2 linked regions of the Homo sapiens genome follow. The protein of the gene in region 2 purifies or fractionates together with the protein of the main gene of each other region. This does not show direct contact. Each region holds a gene or a part of one and is shown on either strand. Other genes may lie near its edges. The genes, in order: MYO9A and RASGEF1A.

Region 1 (3,487 bases), on a different chromosome or scaffold from region 2:
CAGCACCTTTTATTAGGTGCTGGGATCTAAGAGTCAGCAAGACAGGTAAGTGTTTGACGCTGTGAAAACTGAGAGCTGTTGAGAACACAGACCTCTAACCCAATTCACAGGGTCAGAGCAAACTTCCTAGGACAACTACCTTTTATACTAAAACCTGCGAGTCAGTAGGAGTTCTCCAAAGCTGGGAGTTTGGGAAACAGAACTGACTTCCAGATAAGAAAACTAACATTCAGAGAGAGCGAATGCCTTTCCCAGACATGCAGTAAAGTTGGTAGCAGAACAAAAATGACAAACTGAGTTAAAATTTCTGTTCCTATTGCAATGTGTTGCTTTGAATTTCAGTGAGAATCCTTGGGCCCTCTATTGGCAACCTCTATTAGCAACTTCTTCAAGTGGCCAATTTAGGGGAGGATCCTAAATGCAGATTTACTGCTTTTCCTCCCTTCTAGCCTTAAACCGATTAAATGAAGTCTTGACAGCCAGCAGCCTGCATCCACTACAGAAAAAACGACACCTTGAATCACACCTTCACTTGAATTCAGTTGAGTTCCAGTGACTACCACCTCTGTGCTTTGTCAACTTTGGGTTGAGTCCTTTCCTGAAAACACATCAGTGTAACTAAGAAGTCACTGCTGTTTCTTGGAGTTGGGTTGGAATAGTTGGAGTGGGAGCCAGGATGGTTGGAAAACAAACCACACATATTGCTGCTTCTGGAAGCTTTGTTCTTTAATGAGCCATGGGGTGATTTGTTCATCAAGCTGCTTTTGTGTAGCCATACAGTGCATATTTTGAGTGACACAAACTGCACTTTATACAGATGGTATCTTGTTACCCCTCAACCCCCCAGCAAAGAAAAAAAAACAAAAAGGAAATTACAAAGTGCCTATTGATTGCATCCGGAATGTAATCAGTTCCGTGGGTGAGATAAATCATTCTTCTTATAGAATTATTCTATTAAACAGTAAAATGTTATATTTCACAGGATATGTCCTTTTATAATACAGTTTTTAAAAAAAATTTACACTCAGCATACTTATAAATTACTTAAAATCCATTAAAATAATATAATACGAATCTGTAGTCCACACCTTTCCCATAGTAAATACAAATACTTGGTTCAAAAGGTGCAACTTTTATATGACCTCAGAGGGCTGATAAATAGGCATTAAGAATGGATGACTAGCAAGGTGACAGGCCCATTGTTGGGGCTTTTTTGAAAATAGTTTCAACCAGGGGACCAACATGAGACCTAATAGATCCATCTCCACAATCATCATTTTGCTGTTACCCTTTCAATACCCAATCAAATGTGGGAGTCATTCCAGAGAAAAGTGGTTAAAAGTAGTCTAGGGCATAGAAAAAGAGGACTCTCACAGATACCAAGGAGTTTTACTACCAAGGCCAGCATGGTATTGCAGGACAGTGCTGGGGAGTTGTCACAAGAGTATGGGTGGACATAACACATTTGTCCATACAGAATGATGCATGCCCCGCATCCAGCTTCCCACCAAGAAGAAAAAAGAGAGGAGGATGAGGAAAGCCATGGAGTGAGTATGTATGTTTCTTTTTAAAATGAAAACTCTCTTAGCTTTGAACACATCCTGAGAATCCTTTCTTCTTTCTAGTTTACCAAAGTGCTTGTTACAGTGAAAAACACAGCCCACAGGCACTGAGGTGGGACTACAGAACCTTGCTGGACCACATCTTTTCAGCACATTTCTGTGACCCTCTGTTTTTGATGGAGAAAACAACGCTACTGTTATGAAACACAGAATGGAGTCTTCATTAATCTTCCAGCAGGGTAAGTGCTCTGGCAGGTTTCCAAAGCATGAGAAGGTGGGGGCTCTAGTATTCCATCCCAGGACCTCTGGCCCTTTTGTCTCTCTCTGCAAGGCTCATAGTTGGAGGGCTGTATCTCCCTTTGTGTTTTCAGAAGCCCAGAGTGGCAAAATAATTTAAATGGCAGGAGGTACAAAGTACGTTGTAAACTAAGCCTCCCTGAATCCTGCTGTATTTGCTGTTGATTTGCTTCAATTTGTGATACAGAATGAAATCACACTTCTCTGCTTTTGTTACATTTTCCATAATAAGTACATACTAAATTACAGGGATACATTCACTTTAATGGGCAGAGTTGAAAATTCAGGTTTTGTTTGGGGCTGGGAATGTGTGCTGTGAGAAGAGTGCTCTGCATTTTGGAGTATGGGCTCCAAATGTGGAGCTGCCCCACTGCTGCCATGCAGAGATCAAACAAGCAAAGGAGAAGCACTATGGAACCACAAATGTGATGCATATTAAGGGCTAACAGTTTCATAAGTGATTGTAATGCGGCATCACTTTGTGGTGACATAACTTTACCATGCAGAGGGCCAGTGAGAACAGATGGATGCAGACACAGCGTTTGGTTCTGAAGGTTTTTAAGAGTTATGGCTTCATCTCTTGATCAGGCCAACAAGGCCTACTACCCTATGTAAACAACGGCTTTCCCTCAAAGGGAGGGCCCCACACTGCTCTCCACTCTTATCATTTTGTGGCTCTCTCCTCCTCACCCACCCACCCCAATCCTGGCAGATTAAATTACTAGAAATCCACAAATCTAGCAACTGAAAAAACAAGTTTTTTTAATTGAATTTTATCCAAACTGGAGTTTCAGGTCCCTGAGAAAAATTATAAAGTCTCTTAACATCCATCACCTAGTTCCTTTAAAGTGACCTACATCAGTCGTTTTTTAACTGCCAAAAAACTTATTTTGCCAAAAAAGCCCCACAAAGATTTAGAAGGAAGAACATGTGCCAACATATGTTCTTCTGGCCATTCCTCTGGGCCACAGGAAATTATTCCATAAGGGCAATCTCTTTTTTTCATACAGGATTTAACCAACATTCTGGAGCAAGTGCAGAGTAACAATTAATGCCCAGCAGTACACTACTCTCCCAAGAACACTGAAACACAGACTGTGCAACCTGGCACGGGGCTGAGGAACCAGCAATCCCACTCTAACACACCATGCTGAGGGGTTTTCCTCTATCCTCTAGGAGATTCTCTGAAATTCAGATTTTTAAAAGCTTAACATTATTTATTACTCCTCAGGACAAGATGAACAAGGTGGCAGATGTCTGTGGGATATAAAGCATAACATTTGCTCATTAACTATCATTATTCTGGAGATTTTAATGGCTTCCTTTCTCTGGCTCAATTCTGAACCCAAAGTAGGGAGAGGTAAGACTCCTGCTACCTTTAGCTGCCACTCAGAATTATGCTCCAAGTCTAACCTCTGGGGCTGGCCAATAACCACTGAGGCAGTGGCGTGAGGTTCAGTGTTGTGTAACAGGAGAGAGAGACTCTGCCTTAACAAAAGACTTAATATTTCCACAACTTCAAAGAAGTATGAAAAGGAAGAATACCCAAAATACAGGTTATAGATGGTAAAGGCTCTTTTTCAGAGCAGTGCATGTAGTAGCAAGACAAGATGCATTTAGTAACTTTA
Region 2 (4,366 bases):
AGGGGCTTTCGGGCTTCCCTTCACACAGTGCCCGCCAAGCCACTGCTGGCCATACCAGCTGACCTTCCCAAACCCTGCTCCCGGGCTGCTAGCTGGGGAATTCCTGGTGTCCCAGCGCGCAGGGACATTCTGCATGGGTTCCTGGCAGCTCGCCACTCTGGGCCGGCCCAGAGCCCACTCTCACATACCCACAGCCCCAGGCTCTGTGCCCAAAAAGTGGCGACAGGGATACACCCAAAAAGTGGGCAGTGAGCCCTCTCTGGACCCCCGCAGGTCAGGCTGACAGCCATAGGGGAGGGCCTCTGACACCCCCAGCAATCCACCAGTGGGTATCAGAGGCCCTCCTCTATGGCTGTCAGCCCACCAGTGCCACTTCAGTCCCCTCCCTCCGCACATCACACCCTTGCTAGGTAAACACTCATCCTCCCCAGCAGGGAGTGGGCAGGGGAGGGCAGAGGAGCCGGGAGGCAGGCTGGAGTGGGTGGGAGTTACAGGAGGCAGATTGGAAGCTCCAACAGAAAAGCAGCCAGAGTGCCGGACCCAAGCAGATGGCCTCAGGAGAAAAAGGGGGAAGGGGAGGGAGGGTCCGTCAAGGGGCAGCAGGGAGGGGTGGGGGAGAATGCCTTGAGTCTCCTCCCCATCTGCTATCTGCTATGCCCCTGGCACCTACCCCCAGCAGCCCAGCGCCCCTCCCCTGGGGTGGGCCATGCAGAGAAGAGCATCCCTCCACCAGCCCCTCTCCTGAGGACAGTGGGGGGGCCAAACCCCCTGCCCCCATCCCTGCCTTGGCACAGCACCTTCACTTGACCTATTTGACAAATAGGGCTTCTGTGAAACCCACGGTTCTATTGCCAAAAACCAAAGGCCAACCAAAGCTGTCCCATCCTGCCCCTGGCATCATTCTACAGGTGGGGACCGGCGTGCTCAGGGGCTCCTGGCCACACTGTGTCCCAGTGCCCACTCGCTCTCCTCCCTGGCTGGCCCCTCCCACCGCTGGGGGCCACTGTGTGCGTGGCTCTCCCCACCGCAGCCACTGTCCAGCACAAATGCCATTTCTCCCTCCTCCTCCTCCTCCCCTGCCTGCAGTTGCTAAGTTACACCAAAAAACCCCTCTGCTCTGTGTGAACTGTTCCATTTCCACGATTTGCCAGGTGGAAGGGAGCCATCCGGCTGGCAGCTCGAAGATGCCTCCCAGAGAAAAACAAACTCACTGGCTGGCCTTCAGGCCAAGGCACACCTGGGATACCTGCTTGGTTCACAAACCCAGGGGCATGTGCAGGAGGACACAGCTTCTCTACTTCACTAGAGAGCCTGGGGGATCCACACAGCTCATGCCCTTCTCAGGAGCAGGGAGTGTGGGCCTGCTGCACCCGCCTCGCTGGGTCACTACCACCCACAGCCCTAAGGACACACACTGGCTGGAGGGGCAGAGAACCCACCCACGTGTCCCTGGCCATCCAGCCAAGGTCCTCCATGTCCCCCTGCTCCGGATCTCCCCTTCCTGGGCTGGGGTCCTGAGGTTCCAAAGCAAAGTGTCACTGGACATCAGGGTGGAAATGTCCTCAGAGGTCATCAAAACCGTGTCAGTCTACAGATGGGGAAACTGAGTCTCAGAAGCCTGCAGCCTGCCCGTGGTTCACGAATCAAGACCTGTAGCCTTTCGGCTGGAGGCCCCCTAGAGCCGCTTAGAGTCCAGGGCACCGAGGTGGACAGGCTGGGCTGGCAAGACTGCATCCGGAGGGGGCGGGAGAACCCTGGGGGGACAGAGGGAACCAAGGCCTCTGGGAGGCTCCCCTGCACCCAGCCTGACTCCTGTGTTTCAGGATCCTGCGGCCGACGGCCATCGGGGCCCTTCCTGCGCAGGACAGTGGGAGAAGAGTGGCAGTGGTGGGGAGGGTGAACCAGGGAGAAGCTCACTGCTCTGAGCAGGGAGGGAGGGAGCCCCGGCCACCACCAGGTCTCTGCCCCCAGGTGGCTCCCAAGAGGCAGGCAGCGGCCTCTCTGTAAATATCCACCAGGTCCAGCACCCAGAGGCAGCCAGAAATGCAGGGCACAGGAACCTGCCAGCGCGTCCCTCCACACACAGCAGGGGACTCCCGCCCCCACCTCTCACTCACCGACCCTCGGACCAGAACCAGCTGCACCTGCCCCGTTCCTGGGGCCGGCAAGGCCTGGGGCAAAGAGAGCGTGGTCCTTCAAATGACCCTTGCCCAGCAGGGAGAGGGAGACACCTGGCATGGCCCTGGACCTCTCCCCCAAATGCAGAGCTCAAGCCCCAATTCCTCGCCAAACAGCAAGGGCGTGAGATACCACGGCGGGGCCCAGAATGCAGAAGAGCAAATGGAAACTTCCAACTGCGCAGCCCTGAGCTCCTCCGATTCCCCAGCCCCCACCCCCACGCCAGGCCCCGGGCAGCGAACCTGCCCGCAGTGCCCACGCCCGCCCGCCGCGTGCGCTCCTGCCACGCCCGGCCCGGCCCGGCCCGGCCCGCCAGGTGCCCTGAAGGGGCGGAGGGTGCAGGGGGTCCTGGCGCCGTCCAGCCCGGGGCGGAGTTCTCAGCAACTCCGCGCGCCGGGATCCCGGCCGCCCTCCCCGCGCGCGTCCCCCGCCCCGCGCCCGGAGCCCGCGCCCCGGCCCCACGACGGCCGCGCCGGGAGGGACCCCGGGCCCGCGCACGCCGCGCCCTGCCCGCGCCGGCGACCGGAGGGCACGGCCCCAGGCGCGGGCGGGGGCCCCGAGGCACTGAGGGTCCGCGGCCGCTGCCTACCTCGGTCCGGGCCAGCGTCGCTCCCGCGCCGCCCTCGCGCCGCAGTCGGGCCCCGAGCAGCGCGCGGCCGGCGCCGGCGGCGGCTCATGCTCGGCGCCCGGGCCCGCGGCACCCGCCCACCCGCGGCCGCCCCCGCGCTGCGCCAGCTGCGGGCAGAGCAGCTCCCTCCGCAGCCGGCGCCGGGGAGCGCGAGCGAGCGAGCGAACGAGCGAGCGCGGAGCGAGCGCCGAGCGGGCACGGAGCGGGCGCGAGAGCGCGGGGAGCGGGGGAGCGGGCGGGCGCGGGACGCGGAGGGAGGAGGGTGCGGGGCAAAGGTGCAGGGGGAGGTAGGGCGCGGGACGGGGCTCGAGCAGAGGGCACTGGGACAGGGCGGGCGCCGGGAGAGGGCGGCCAGGCTTTCATTTAAAAAGGATAAGGCATCACGCCTGTAATCCCAGCACTTTGGGAGGCCGAGACGGGCGGATCACGAGGTCAGGAGATCGAGACCATCCCGGCTAACACGGTGAAACCCCATCTCTACTAAAAATACAAAAAAAAAAATTAGCCGGGCGTGGTGGCGGGCGCCTGTAGTCCCAGCTACTCGGGAGGCTGAGGGAGGAGAATGGTGTAAACTCGGGAGGTGGAGCTTGCAGTGAGCCGAGATCGCGCCACTGCACTCCAGCCTGGGTAACAGAGTGAGACTCCGTCTCAAAAAAAAAAAAAAAAAAAAAAAAAAAAGGATCAGGCAGCAGACAAGCTAGGAGGCGATGCGGCCACCGCATTTAAAAGGCCCTCTGGGGACTCCCGCAGAGCTGGCAAAATTTTTGTCAGTGGAATCAGACGGTGAAAGCCCTTCTGTGGGCAAGTCCTGGCCCCTTGGGTCACTCCCCTTAACCATCTTAATCGCCCTGTAAGGTCGGTGGTGGATTTGTTCCCATTGGACAGGTTAGTAAACTGATGCACAGGGAGTGCGGTTACCCTGCAGGGTCTCAGAGCCTATAAGTGGCAGAGCAAGGCTCCAAAGCCACCTTGAAAGATTTCAGAACCACTAAAGCAGGACACAGGTCTTCTGGCGTCCACTGGAACTTCCTGTCGCTCTGAAGGGTCACCTTCTCTTGAACGGACACCCTGTGGCCTGACCCCAGGGTGGCCCAGAGTGACTCTTGCAGGCAGTCAGACGAGGGCCAGTGAGAAACAGGTCTGGGGCGACGATGTCCCCAGGTGGAGGGGTCTGTGTGAAAAAATGGGGAGGAGCCCCACAGCACCCCTTGAAGAGGCTGAGGACCTTGCTTACTCACTTAGTCCTTGTGTCTTGAACACCTGTATGCCAGGTGTAAGATGGGGCACTGGGATTCGGCTGTGAATGTCTCTGTCTGGTTGGAGTTTGCATTCTTGTGGGAAGTAGGCAGTGAATAAAAATACACATAAATAGTTCATGTGTCAGATGCTGCAGATCCCACAGAGAGGCCCAGCAGGGAGAGGGAGCCAGCGAAGGGAGGGGGAGGGGAGCTTGTAGGGTGGGGGATTCTTTTTTATTTTTTAAGGGGAGGTGTCACTGTGTGGCCCAGGCTGGAGTGCAGTGGCTATTCACAGGTGCAATCACTATGCTCTACAGCCTGG

Evidence for each region.
Region 1: the proteins of RASGEF1A (region 2) and MYO9A purify together in Homo sapiens (affinity purification with mass spectrometry; one large-scale study listed by BioGRID and IntAct). This does not show direct contact.

Annotation. Positions count from the first base shown.
Region 1 is NC_000015.10:71,821,586-71,825,072, forward strand, and holds the end of MYO9A (unconventional myosin-IXa), read right to left. Parts: 3' UTR 706-3,487; downstream 1-705. UniProt on the Homo sapiens protein: Myosins are actin-based motor molecules with ATPase activity. Unconventional myosins serve in intracellular movements. Regulates Rho by stimulating it's GTPase activity in neurons.
Region 2 is NC_000010.11:43,264,078-43,268,443, forward strand, and holds the start of RASGEF1A (ras-GEF domain-containing family member 1A), read right to left. Parts: upstream 2,989-4,366; 5' UTR 2,768-2,988; intron 1-2,767. UniProt on the Homo sapiens protein: Guanine nucleotide exchange factor (GEF) with specificity for RAP2A, KRAS, HRAS, and NRAS (in vitro). Plays a role in cell migration.